Homo sapiens: one gene and its partner. The protein of the gene in region 1 interacts with the protein of each later gene in a pairwise test. Each region holds a gene or a part of one and is shown in the gene's direction. Other genes may lie near its edges.

Region 1 (7,146 bases):
GTCTTTTCCCATTATTGAAATATTGCCACTGTTGACATTTTGTTATATTCCTTTAGCCTTTCTAGGCATACATAGGTACATTTTTTAGAAACTAAATTGGGATCTTGTTTTGTTTTTGTTTTTGAAAAGAGAACCAGAATATGGGATCTTATTTCTGATCTCCATTTTTTTTAATATATATCTTGAATATTGCTCATGTAGTAAATATTCTACAACTGGATTTAAGGTCCATTGCATATTATATTATAATATATTCAATCACCTTTTACTATTGACCCTATAGATTGTTTCTATTTTTTCCTATTAAGAAAAATGCTGTAATGCACAAACTATCTGGCATAATATTGGTCAAATGTTTATTCTTTCACTGTTTTGGCAAGCTTTTTTTTTTTTTTTTGAGACATGGTCTCTCTGTCACACCACTGTCACTGGAGTGCAGTGGTGCAATTACAGCTCACTGCAGCCTTAACTCCTGCACTCAAGCAATCCTACCCCCTCAGCCTCCTGAGTAGCTTGGATTACAGGCATGTGCCGCTACACTCAGCTAATTTTAAATATTTTTTTTAGAAACAGGATCTTGCTATGTTGCCCAGGCTGGTCTCAAACTCCTGGCCTCAAGTGATCCCCTCCTATCTTGGCCTCCCAATGCACTGGGATTACAGGTGTGAGCCACCATGCCTGGCCAGTAAGCTTTTATTTTTTTTTAAGTATCTACTATATGCCAAGTTTTAATAAGTGAGAAAGATCTGTTCAGTGAAAGAATGATGTATAAACTCTATATTGAAAGTCTCCTCCATACTGGTGAACTCTACTGGAAGGAAGGCTTGCTTCATTCTGTTTGCTACAATGACACCCTTAGCCATGCTTCTAAAATGGGCTATGGGTACCATCTTTGTTTGCCTGGGACAGATCTAGCTTACGGCTATTGTCACAATGTAATTATTATTCCTGCTGCCTTTTCACTCAAGAGTGTCCCAGTTTGGGCTTATATTATGTATTATCCCCTAGTTCCAGGAGGTATAAACCAGAGAGTACATGAAGCCCCAGAATAACCATGACTATATGCCTAGAGTGTCAGTTTTAATCCATGACAAGATATTGAAAACGTTTCATTTATGTGATGAATATTTATTGTCTGTTATATACATGTACTTTTTTAGGTGCTAGGGATAAATCAAACCATAAAACAGAAATTAACACTGTGGTAGTTAGACAATAGACAGAGAGTAAACAAAAGAAGTAAATACTGTGCTCAAAAGTGATTAATGTTACTAAGAAAATGTAAAAGGGAAGGGGAGATAGGAAGTATTGGGGAAGGAGATTGTAATTTTAGTGAGTATGGTTGCTCATAGCCTTCTGTAACATTTGAGCTAAGACTTCAAGGTGGTGAAGGAGTGACCTGTGCAGATATTTGGGGAAGAGCATTCCAAACAGAGGAAACGGCAAGTACAAAGACCCTGAAACGGCAAGTACAAAGACCCTGAGATGGGAGTGTGCCTAGCATTCAAGAATAGCAAGGAGGTCATTGTGGCTAGAATGGGGAAGGTAATTGGAATGAAGTCAAAGAGAGATGTAAAGAGGCTTTCTAATGGAGTGAGATGTGAAACCATTAGAGGTTTTGAGCACAATAGTGACAAGGTGACTTAGCTTTATCAGAATACTCTGTTTAAACTCTGTTTGCTATGTTGCAAGCCGACTGGCTACTATGTTACAGATAGACTCCAGGCTGGCAAGGAGTGTAGTTAAGGAGACTATTGGTATATTAAAACCAACTTGGATATATTATGCAGCAGAAAACAAAAGTGACTTAAAATGTCAAAATAGAAGCCTAGACCTTCATGTATAAAATAGAGGCATTTAAATAATTTTTAGCATATTATAGATTTTCGGGATCCTCCTCCAGTCCTCAAAGTCTGTTTCATTTGTCTGTCTTTAGTACTGTTTTCCAGCTTTTGACATGAATGCACTTTTCTGCTTTCTGCTGTCATTTCCCACTTCAGAATTTGAGGATATTGCATTCACTTTGGTTGCCAGGAAGTTTTACTGTTGTTTAAAATTGTTGAAGTTGTTCTGAAGTGACAGGAAACCTTAATAAACATTTTGATTTTTGTAAAGAGGAGTAGATGCATAATAAGTGAGTAGTGGTGTGGAAGTACCCTTAATGTTTCTCCTCCCTTTCACATCTGTTCTCCACTTGTCATTTTTCTGCTTAAAAACTTCCTATAGCTTTCATGTGCATTCTCTCTTGTCTTCCTCAGCCACATTCTATTTCTATTATTGTTATTATTGTTATTATTATTGAGACAGGGTCTCCCTCTTCCATCACCCAGGCTGGAGTACAGTGGCACGATCATAGTTTAGTAACCTCAAACTCCTGGGCTCAAGGTATCCTTCTGCCTCAGTCTCTGTAGCTGAGACTACAGGCCCGTGTTACAAAGCCCAGCTAATTTTTGTTTGTTTGTTTGTTTTTTAGCTTTTTTAAGAGATAGGGTCTCAAACACCTGGCCTCAAGCAGTCTTCTTGCCTTGGTCTCCTAAAGTGCTGGGATTACAGGCCTGAGCCACCGCCCCAGGCCACATTGTATTTCATTGTCTCTCAGCCCTCCCCCTACCCTAATCATCCAAGCCTTTTTTTTTTCTTGTTCCTGTCTTTACAGACGTAGTTAATTTTTCCTAAAATGTTTTCTTCCACTTTCACTACTTGGTGAATGCTTCAGAACAAAACTTAGCTGTCAACTGAAGGCTTCCTATCACCTTCAGAAATCCTCCCCAACCTAGTAGTATATACATTCTTTTATTACAGGTGTCACCTTGTATTAAGAATGATAACATGTTTCCTTTACTAGACCAAGCTCTTAGTGGCTGCATCAAATTTATTGGTTTTTTTTACATACCCATTGCTGAGCATTTTTTAAGACAGCGTTTATTTAAATGAATTAGTTCTAGCCAGGTGCGGCGGCTCACACCTGTAATCCCAGCACTTTGGGAGGCCAAGGTGGGCAGATCACTTGAGGTCAGGAGTTCAAGACCAGCCTGGCCATTGTGGTGAAACCCCGTCTCTACTAAAAACACAAAAATTAGCTGGGCGTGGTGTTGCGTGCCTGTAATTCCAGCTGCCCATGAGGCTGAGGCATGAGAATCTCTTGAACGCAGGAGGCAGAGGTTGCAGTGAGTGGAGATTACATCACTGCACTCCAACCTGGGCAACAGAGTGAGACTCCATCTCAAAAAAGAAAGAAAATTAGAAAATATATATAATCAGCAACACCTCTGTGAAATTGGGCAAATGATTTAACCTCCCTGAATTGAGTTTCCTTATCTGAAAAATCAGGATAATCATTCCTGCTCTGCCAAGTTCACAGTACTGTTAGGAAGACCTCAAAAGATACTGCATGTGCCGGTGCTTTGAAAATGTCTTAAACTTATGCTATATAGGGCTAGTAGAGCCTAGATACTGTAATAAAATCTGAAGACTTATCTAGTTCTCTTCTGTATCCAGTAGTTTACTGGGTTTTGTATTATTGCCTCCCCTTGTTTTAACTATGTACATTTTTATAAAGAACTGATACTTATTTAAAAGTAGCAATTTATCTGCAGTCAAGGATAGAGGATACTACTGGCAATTGGGACAAATTTTTAAAAATACTTTTTTACATGCTTGAGAGCTTTAGTAGGCCTTCTCTCTGAAAATATAGTGTGAATATTTAATACATAAAATTTTACCAAGCCTTTAAGATTTTGTATCTTTACGGGAAATAGTTTTCAAGAACATCGCAATGTGTCCTTGTCATGCCATCTAGTGATCACAGCACAAATTGTTTAGTTATTTTAAAAATTTGGTGCTTTTTCATGTTGTAATCTCTACAGTAACAATGTATCTCTTAGTATATAATTCCAGTATAGTAGAAATTTGGTGTATTTAATTCTGGGACTGTCATTTTTGTCTGTTCAAGAGGTGTGTGTGAGTTATAGCAACTTGATGGGTTTTAATCTTATCACAATGTTATTAAAACTTATGTATAATTAATTACTCATATTTTATAATTTATTTCATTGAGCTTTTTAAATTTTAAGAAACTGTAAAATATACTGTCATTGATTAAAACTCTAAATTTTTGTTTCCTTGAAAGGTGTTAAAAAAGATATTGAGAAGCTTTATGAAGCTGTACCACAGCTTAGTAATGTGTTTAAGATTGAGGACAAAATTGGAGAAGGTAATCTGGGGATATGCTTTTACTATTTTTACGAGGTCTTTTTTCCATTCTATTTTCCTTTTTTAGTCTTGGTTTTCATTACTATTTCTTATTGAAAAATATACCACTTTTTAGACTATTAAGACCATAGTTTTATTACTAATTATGGTAACAGCTTTTCTTTTTCAACCTTAAAGAAAGAATAAATAATAAATATTTACTGTAAAATGAAGTCCTGTTTTAATGTATTATGCCATTGAAACAGTTTTTACAATCTATCTTAGAATTGTTTCATTAACATTTTTAAAAACCAGATATTGAAAAATTTAATAAATTGTTTTACAGGCACTTTCAGCTCTGTTTATTTGGCCACAGCACAGTTACAAGTAGGACCTGAAGAGAAAATTGCTCTAAAACACTTGATTCCAACAAGTCATCCTATAAGAATTGCAGCTGAACTTCAGTGCCTAACAGTGGCTGGGTAGGCAATTTAAACATATTTTAATTGAACTTGTATATAATTTATAAGATTTTAAAGTAGATATTTAGCAGGGATGAGGGGATTATATGTGAATTAAATACATTTTTCAGTCAAGTGTTTGCAATTTGCTAGCACTTTCCTTCTAACCTTGCAATAGTTAGTTAAATTTATAGTAATTCTTTTAGATTGGATTTCCCTTGAGGCTCGACCTGATTTCCTGTCTTTTATCACTGCTTTTTGTAACCTTCCTGCCAAATCATAAACCTTGGCTTTCATGGTTTACATTATTTTGTAAATGTAGGGAACTCACATTTCACATTTCCCCAGCTATTGACGACCTCATCTAATATTTTATTTAGAATAACAGAATCATCTGGTATGGTTTCTCTCTGCTAGGTCATTTCTGTCAACATATGGACATGATTTAGAATCTTACCCTCCTAAACTGCCCTCCTTCTTCCACCTGCTCCATCATTTCTTTGTTCCCCCTTACAGCCAGACTTCTCAAAAATTATCTGCATACATTGTTTTCATTCCACACCTCTCTTTCACTAAATACCTATTGCGGCTGTTCTTCTCTATGCTAAACTGGAAACTATAGAGTCAATCATTACTCTAGGCATCATTTAACACAATTGACGTGAACCCTTGTCTTGACTTCTGTCCTGCCACACCCTCCTTGTTTTCTTCTTCCCTCATTTGGCCTTTCATTTTCAGTGTCTTTGCTAGCTCTTCCACTTCTATCTGACCCCTAAATATTGGAGTTCCTCGTGCTTGCTCTTAGGTTTCTCTGTATTCTTAGTGTCCTCCATTTCCACATGATCTAAAGTAATGATTCCCAAAAGTATATAGTTAATCTCAGACCTTTTATCTTAACTACAGGTTTGTGTATATCCACCTGCCTATTTAACATTTCCACTTGGTGCCTGATAAATATCTCAAACCTAAAAGACAAACCTAAACCTTAACATACCAAAAAAAAAAAAAAAAACACCACAACAAATGTTCTTATCCACCCGTCTCTGCAAATGGCCCATCTACACACTTGTTTGGGCCAGAAACCTAGAAATCATCCTCATTTTCTCTATTTCTCTCCTAAACCACATTAATCACTAAGTCCTAGCCATTTTGGCTCTAAAGTATATCTAGAAGTTCATCCATGTCTTTCTGTCTTCTCTGCCACTACCTCAGATGAAGCCTAGACTACGACTGTAGCCTGCTTCTTCCTTCTCCCCTTAATTCTGTCTTTACACAGCAGCCAGAATGATCTTTAAAATATAAAATATATATGTATATAACTTAAATTGGGTCATTAGTTCCACCACTTAAAATCTTTCAGTGGTTTCCCTATGTACTTTGAAAAAAAAATTCAACCTTCTCATGCCTATCTTCCCACCTCCCTCACTGTGCTCCATTTCTTTAGTTTATCAAATTTGTCTCAAGAGCTTTCTTACCTCAGGGCCACTGCCCAGACTGTTTCCCCATTCAGGAAGACCTCTCCCAGTCATTGCTTGCTGACCCTTCATCTTCTGATCTGAGCAAGAGTGAAACTGGACGCAGTAGTTCATGCTTGTAATCCCAGCACTTTGGGAGGATTGCTTGAGGCCAGGAGTTTGAGACCTGCCTGGGCAACCTAGCAAGAACCCATCTTTACAAAAAACTTAAAAATTATCCAGGCAAGGTGGCACACATCTGTAGTCCCAGCTACTTGGGAGGCTGAGGTAGGAGGATCGCTTGAGCCCAGGAGTTTGAGGCTGTAATGACCTGCGATCACTCCATTGCACTCCATCCAGCCTGGTCAACAAAACAAGACCCTGCCTCTGAGAAAAAAAAAAAAGAGTGACATTGCTTGAAAGATGTCTTCTCTGAATTAAATTAGATTCTCCTATTTTTTTTTATTGTCATAGCATCTTTAGATTTCTTTCAAAGCCCTTATCGTATTCTGTCATTATAAGTTACCTTGTTATTATCTGTATTGTCCACTAGATAGTAAACTCCATGAGGACAGAAATTCTGTAAATTTTATTCACTATTGCATCACTAATGTCTATAATCCCTAACAGCAAATAACAGTGCCAACTAAATACTGAATGAATGAATAAGCCTGTTTGTTTCAGCCTTCTGTGTATTATAGAAGACAAGAAAATGAGATGGCCTCTATAAAGAATGCTTGCATACATTCTTGTACCCTAAATATGATCATTTCTTTTTCTATATTTTTAACTGTCTCCCTCTACCACTTTTTCTTTTTCTGTGCTTAAAAAAGTACATGCTAAAAATGCCTTCATCTGATCTTACAATGCAGTCAGGCAAATTGTCTTCAGGCTCAGCTTCCATTGTGTTATATTTTCCTTCCTTCTGTTTTGTTTCTTCCTTTCCACTTAAATTGCTGTCTTAAAAATTACCAGTTAATTATTCTTTGCCTAACTAAAAGCCTTCCCTCAGTTGTTATTCTCTTTGACTTCCATGCTAA
Region 2 (7,000 bases), on another chromosome or scaffold:
GTCACTCCCTTGGGGCTGGGGTAGTGGGACATCCCAGAAAGGCCCAGCCCCACAGACTCTGACGGGCACCTCCAGGACACCCACTGGCCAGCGCTTGCCCCCTTCCTGGGGACAGTGCCGTAGCGTGGGCCTGGGCCGGCTGCTTCTTCAGCAGCAGGGTCCTGCACGCCGAGCTCGCGCTAAGAGGGAAGTAGAGCCCACCCTGCCCTGTGGAGCTGCCAGCGCCTCTGCTAGGCCTGCCCCACGCAGGTGGATGGCCCAGGTCAGGGTGGGCGGGCCAGGTGCCTTCGGCTCTGGGGCCGACCTGGACGCTCCATGCCACTGTCTGTCACAGGAAGATCATGGACTCCGGGGAACTGGACTTCTACCAGCATGACAAGGTCTGCTCCAACACCTGCCGCAGCACAAAGATTGACCTCTCAGGAGCCCGTGTGTCCCTGAGCAGCCCCACGTCGGCCGAGTACATTCCCCTCACGCCCGCCGCAGCCGACGGTAGGTGCACAGGGCTGCTCGTCCTGACCCAGCCCCACCCTGGCCATGGCCACAGAGGGTGACATGCCCCTGGGTGGCCTCCTTGGCCCCAGGCGTTTGCTCACGCCAGGACTGCCGGTCTCCTGCCTGGGACCCTGAGTTGTCTGGGATCAGCCTCCTCCTGCCTCACAGAGGAGATCTGGCAGAATTGCTGCTTTCATTGACAAGGAAGATTGAAGCACTTTTCTTTTTAAGCCATTTTGGTTGTAATATAATAACTCACGTGTGGGGAAGGGTATAGCGAGTAACAGAGAGTGCCTGGGCGCCCACCCGGCCCCCTCCCTCCCACCCCCACGGCCCAGCCCCAAATCTGGACCCGCTTCCCTCCTGACCTGGCGGTTTACGGAACTGCGCGCCTGTGCTCCCGCCTTCCGTGCTGGGTGCCTTGCTGCAGGTATTCCTGCCACTTGGGTTTTTGGGTGACGCTTTAGATACTGTTCCACGTTGGTGTCTGTAGCTCTAAACTGTGGAGAGGTTGTTCCCTAGAATTCTTTCCAGCTTTATGAATAGAGAAATTTTTCTTAAAACTACAGTTAGGCTGGGTGTGGTGGCTCACACCTGTAACCCCAGCACTTTGGGAAGCCGAGGCGGGTGGATCACTTGAGGCCAGCCTGGCCAACAGGATGAAACCCTGTCTCTATTAAAAGTACAGAAGTTAGCCGGGTGTGGTGGTGCATGCCTGTAGTCCCAGCTACTCAGGAGGCTGAGGCAGGAGAATCGCTTGAACCCAGGAGGCGGAGGTTGCAGTGAGCTGAGATCGCTCCACTGCCCTCCAGCCTGGGCGACAGTGTGAGATTCCATCTCAAAACAAAAAAACTGAAGTTAAAGTGAAGTTAGGTCCTGGGCTCCCTGGTCACATCTCTGGGTGGTCTTTGGTGATGTGTTTCCAGCAATGCCACATGCATTGTCCCTAAGCTGCCACTCCGCATTGCTGGCCAGATTGTGTTCCTGTGTGCCCAGGGACGTCCTTGTTGTTGGCCCAGGTGGGACCCAGTTGAGTCCTGTCCTGTCCCGCTGGGTAGGAGAGTGAGGCCAGGGCACTAGGGAGGCCTCACCCTTCTCCTGGGCCCCCTTCCACGTCCTGCTGGGGCAGCCTGGCAGGTTCAGTGCTGAGTCCTGAGAAGCCCAGGACACTTGGGCTGCTGTGGTCAGAGGGGCTGGGTAGAGCCCAGCCTCCTGTCTGTCCTCCCCAGGGCCTCCCCAGCGGCTCCACCGCGTTAGTGTTGGCCCTGCCTGACCGCCTGCCAGGGAAGGAACTGGGCCTTCCACGCCCTGTAGTCAGTGCCTCACAGCTAGGCTGAGGCTCAGCTCTTCTGAAGATGATTTGGGTTCTTTAACCTGCAATCTCTGAGAACCATTGACTTGGCTACTGTGCAGTTAGTAAAAGATGCTGTGCCAGCCCCAACTCGGAAAAACGACTCATTCACGCCCCAAATAATTCCAGATGTGTAATATGAGTCATACTCACCACTGCCATGTCTTTGATGAATGTGGAAAAGGCCAGTATTCCCAAAACATTCAACTGCTTCCAGGTCGTTGGTGGTGGTGTTGGAGAAGGAGTCCTGCTCTGTCGCCCAGGCTGGAGTGCAGGGGCCTGATCTCGGCTCACTGCAACCTCTGCCTTCCGGGTTCTAGCGATTCTCCTGCCTCAGCCTCCCGAGTAGCTGGGATTACAGGCGCACGCCGCCACACCCGGTTGACTTTGTATTTTAGTAGAGACGGGGTTTTGCCGTGTTGCCCAGGCTGTTCTCGAACTCCTGACCTTAGGTGATCCACCCGCCTCAGTCTCCCAAAGTGCCTGGATTACAGGCGTGAGCCACCACATCCGGCCCCGGGTTTGTTTTTTAAGCCAGATCTGTGTATAAAGTCTCTATCAGCAACGCCCAAAATGGCCACATATGAACGACACGCCCAGTTGTGTTCTGCAGGCGCGAGAGAGGGACCCACAGGAAGAGCCAGGACGGTTTCTGTCTCTCAAAGCCCCACTTGTTCTGGTGTAGAAAAATGGAAACATGATAGATACTGAGATTTATGATGACTTCAATGAAGCATCACTTGAAGAGGCGAGGTGAGGGCGAGCCCCACGGGCGACAGACGCAGCCGCAGAGCTCTCGGTGGGAAAACAAGTCAAGCAGAAGGATCACCTTGTCTCGCTCCTGACGGTCCAGTCGAAAGTGCTTGTTGAGTACAATCGTAAATGGACAAGAGGAGGAAAGTGTTGAGGATTTGCTGAAATTGGGTGACGGGTTCAAGGGATTTGTTTCTGCGTTGTTTCTCCTTTGTATGTTTGACAACGTCTGTGATTAAAAATAGCCATAAAATATAAGGCAGGTACACTTTGGCTGTACTAGTGCGTATCCTGTGTTTGTCAGTTTTGTGAAGACAGATGGAAAGGTTCAGAAGGTGGTGTGAGGAGGGTGGACAGGGTATGTGGGGTGTGGGACTGTGGTCCAAACAGCACTCACCCGAGGTTCCCTTTCGGCTGCAGTGAATGGGTCTCCTGCGACCATCACCATAGAGACCTGTGAAGACCCTGGCGACTGGACCGCGGCCATTGGAGGTACGAGGTTCCTCCTTGTGGGCTTCTCACAAGCCCTGGCGGGGTGGTGGAGTCTCTGCCCACCTCGGGCCACACAGGGGCTCCAGGAGTCCAGGTGGGGCCGGCAGGGTCTTTGTGGAGAAAGGCCTGGTTCCAGCAGCATTGTCGTGGGCGCTCTGAGGCTGACCTGCTAGATTTTGGCACTGTGGATGTGTCTGGGCAGTGCAAGCCCAGCACAGTGCCAGGCGCTGCCGGCTCTGGCATGGTGTCCTCGTGGCTATGGTGATGTCCTTGTGGCTGTGGTGGCTGCCCCGTGTAGCAGCACTTTCCCTGCCCACTGAACCCACTCCTTCCCTCACAGATGACACATTTACCTTCTGGCGGGGGCTGAAGGACGCCGGCCTGCTGGACGAGGTCATCCAGGAGTTCCACCAGGAGCTGGTGGAGACCATGAGAGGCCTGCAGCAGCGGGTCCAGGACCCTCCCCTGCAGCTTCGAGGTGAGAAGCTGCATCTTCCCTCTTGCTGGCTACTCAGCCCAGGAGTCTCTGCAGGAGGTGAGGCCACTGGCCCTCCTGCCCCTAGGCCCTTCTGTGCTGCTGGGTTGGAGGCTGAATCTAGGCTTGGGACTCCTGCTGTGCTGAGGCTGAACTTGGTGGGAGGATCGCCTTGATGTATCTCAGTCTTCTCCCTCTGAACTGAGCTCCTGGCTGGCTGGGTTCCTGAGGAGCAGCCTCAGTGGTGGTGTTCTCACTCTCTAGGAAGAGCCCAGGCTCTCACCGAGCGTCCACGTGACTCTCTAGGAAGGTCCCGGGCTCTCACCGAGCGTCCGCGTGGCTCTCTAGGAAGGGCTTGGGCTCTCACTGAGTGTCCGCGTTACCCTTTAAGATGCTGTACTTCTCAACAACATCGTGCAGAACTTCGGCATGCTGGACCTGGTGAAGAAGGTGCTGGCCAGCCACAAGTGCCAGATGGACCGCTCGCGGGAGCAGTACGCCCGGGACCTGGCAGGTATGCTGAGACCACCCCCGTCCCGTCCCCTGGGCGGTAGGCTGAGGACCTGGAGCCCACGGGCTCACCCCACGGCTGTGCATCCACCTGCACTTCCTGGAGTCACCGCCACCACGGCGAGCTTCTCCGCACTGCTGTTGTGCGAGGAAAACAACCTGAAGCTTAAGTGAGGTAGTCAGACCTCTCCATTGCACTAAGCTTACATTTACCGGCATTTCTGTGATGAACCAAGTAGTTATTTAAGAGAAAATGACAGAGGCCAGGCGCGGTGGCTCACGCCTGTTATCCCAGCGCTTTGGGAGGCCGAGGCGGGCGGATCACTTCAGGCTAGGAGTTTGAGACCAGCCTGGCCAACGTGGTGAAACCCCATCTCTGCTGAAAAAAACAAAACAAAACTGGGCATGGTGGTGTGTGCCTGTAATCCCAGCTACTCGGGAGGCTGGCAGGCAATTGCTTGAGCCCAGGAGGTGGAAGTTGCAGGGAGCTGAGATCACACCACTGCACTCCAGTCTGGGTGACAGAGCGAGACCCTGTCTCAAAAAAAAACAATGACAGAGAATGGGAAGGGCTGGTCCTGACCCCGCTCAGAGCTCAAGCCCCTGATATTGGTGCGTTTCCTCCATGCTCCTCTTGGGGTCTGTGCTTACTGTGTGTTCACTGTGTGTGTGTTCAGTGTGTGTGTGTTCACTGCGTGTTCACTGTGTGTTCAATGTGTGTGTATTCAGTGTGTGTGTTCACTGTGTTCAGTGTGTGTGTATTCAGTGTGTGTGCACTGTGTGTTCACTCTTCACTTTGTGTGTTCACTGTTTGTGTTCATTGTGTGTGTGCACTCTGCATGTGTGTGTGCATGTTTATGTTTAAACACATGTGCCACATGTGCTGCTTTTCCTCCTCTCTCTCTTAATATGTCACAAGAGCAACTTTCCACGCTGGGTGTGTGAAAGCTCATGCGGGGATCTGAGACGGCATTTCCACGCTTGCACGCAGGCCCTGGGTCAGTGCAGGAGGGTCTGAGACGGGATTGCCACGCTTGCACACAGGCCCCGGGTCAGTGCAGACCCTGGGTCAGCACAGGCTGGTGTCTACCCCGAGGGCCATCTTGGGCCCCGTCTCCCACAGACCTCACCTTTGGCGGCCATGTGGTCATCTGGGTTTGTGGCATCAGGTGAGCAGACCTGGGTTGCCACTGACCCAGGGGCCACCCAGATGGTGTGGCGTGTCTGCCCCCATCCCCTGCATGCCGCCATCCATGCCCCCGTCCCCTGTGTGATGCCATCTGTACCTCCCTGCAGCCCTGGAGCAGCAGTGTGATGAGCATCGTCGCCGAGCCAAGGAGCTGAAGCACAAGTCCCAGCACCTCAGCAACGTGCTCATGACGCTGACGCCGGTCTCCCTGCCACCGCCTGTGAAGCGGCCCCGGCTTGCACGTGCCACATCAGGACCGGCCGCCATGGCCTCGCAGGTGCTCACCCAGTCTGCCCAGCTGGCGCTTGGCCCGGGCGTGCCCGTCCCCCAGCTGACCAGCGTGCCCCTTGGTAAAGTGGTGTCCACCCTGCCGTCCACCGTCCTGGGCAAGGGTTCCCTTCAGGCGCCCCCCGCCAGCTCCCCGGCCTCCCCGCTGCTCGGGGGATACACAGTCTTGGCCTCTTCCGGCTCCACCTACCCCAGCACAGTGGAGATCCACCCGGACGCGTCCAGCCTCACGGTCCTGAGCACGGCCGCCGTGCAGGACGGTAGCACGGTGTTCAAGGTGGTCAGCCCGCTACAGCTGCTCACGTTGCCTGGCCTGGGCCCCACCCTGCAGAACGTGGCCCAGGCCTCGCCTGGCTCCAGCACAATTGTGACAGTGCCCGCAGGGGCTGCCCCCGGGCCTGAGGAGCACACGGCCACCATTGAGGTGGCTGCCATGGCAGAGGACCACGAGCGGAAGTAGCCGACAGGAGGGCGAGGCCCCTGGGACGGACAGGGCTGGCTGTCTCTCAGCCGCGGCAGCAGGGAGCGGGCAGAGGCCGCAGGGCTGGCTCGGGCAGGTGGGTCACGTGGTCTGCAGAACCAAAGAGAGGAATCGCCAAAACAAATCACGAGAAGAGAGAAGGGGACAGAACAGCGAGAGCAACCTGGAAAATCGGTCTTCAGGTCCCACGTTTCCTCCCCCTTTTTTCTTGGGAAATATATTTTTCCATCTGTTGCTTATTAATACTGTTTACACATTGGGCCTTGATCAGGAGCCAGGTGGGCGGGGGCTAGGGGGAGCCTGGGTGCAGCAGAGACAGAGGAAGCAGAGCCAGGTGCCGAGCGCGACCCTGCAGGTGCTGGACGCGGTGCAGCAGGTCACGAGGCCCCCATGTCTGCACCCAGCCAGGTCCCTGGGGACGTTACTAACTCATGACTTGGGAGCTAAGCCCAAGTGTGAAACCTCTGGATCCTATGGATTTGGTTTCTTCCCACAGTTTTCTGTAGGTTTAGTGTGGCTGGCGCCCCGTTCTCCTCCAGTTGGGAACATGCACCCGGAGCTTGGGGTGCAGATCCTGATGGGTGCCTGCCTCCCCCGCCCCCAGCCGGTGCTCAGGTGGCCCAGGGGCCGCACAGACGAGGCGTGGTCCAGGCATTGTTGCACATGTACTGAGGGTGTTTTTAAGTGAATTGCTTAGTAGGCTTCTAGGAAGAGTCAGATTTATAGCATTTTCAACCAAAATAATGGTGAGTGCCTAGGCTTCCCGAGTTAGCTCTTTGGGTGGCCCCTGAGCCCCTGTGAGTGCACTTGACCGGGTGCGGAGGTCCTGGGCAGCCTGTCCCTGAGCCGGCCCCTCCCAGGGGTCTGAGATCCATGAGGTGTGTCCCTAGGGCTTCAGTCCTGGGGCAGAGGCATAAACAGAACCAGTCACTATGGAGGTCGAGGATTCCCATGTGGGCCCTTCAG

The links. Proteins that work in one complex are often made in the same cells at the same time.
Region 2: the proteins of CDC7 (region 1) and GMEB2 interact in binary tests that used the Homo sapiens proteins (3 or more experiments, as listed by UniProt).

The regions. Positions count from the first base shown.
Region 1 is NC_000001.11:91,503,725-91,510,870, forward strand, and holds part of CDC7 (cell division cycle 7-related protein kinase), read left to right. Parts: intron 1-4,129; coding exon 4,130-4,213; intron 4,214-4,537; coding exon 4,538-4,673; intron 4,674-7,146. UniProt on the Homo sapiens protein: Kinase involved in initiation of DNA replication. Phosphorylates critical substrates that regulate the G1/S phase transition and initiation of DNA replication, such as MCM proteins and CLASPIN.
Region 2 is NC_000020.11:63,589,102-63,596,101, reverse strand, and holds part of GMEB2 (glucocorticoid modulatory element-binding protein 2), read left to right. Parts: intron 1-334; coding exon 335-492; intron 493-3,019; coding exon 3,020-3,091; intron 3,092-3,431; coding exon 3,432-3,569; intron 3,570-3,957; coding exon 3,958-4,080; intron 4,081-5,372; coding exon 5,373-6,013; 3' UTR 6,014-7,000. UniProt on the Homo sapiens protein: Trans-acting factor that binds to glucocorticoid modulatory elements (GME) present in the TAT (tyrosine aminotransferase) promoter and increases sensitivity to low concentrations of glucocorticoids. Also binds to the transferrin receptor promoter.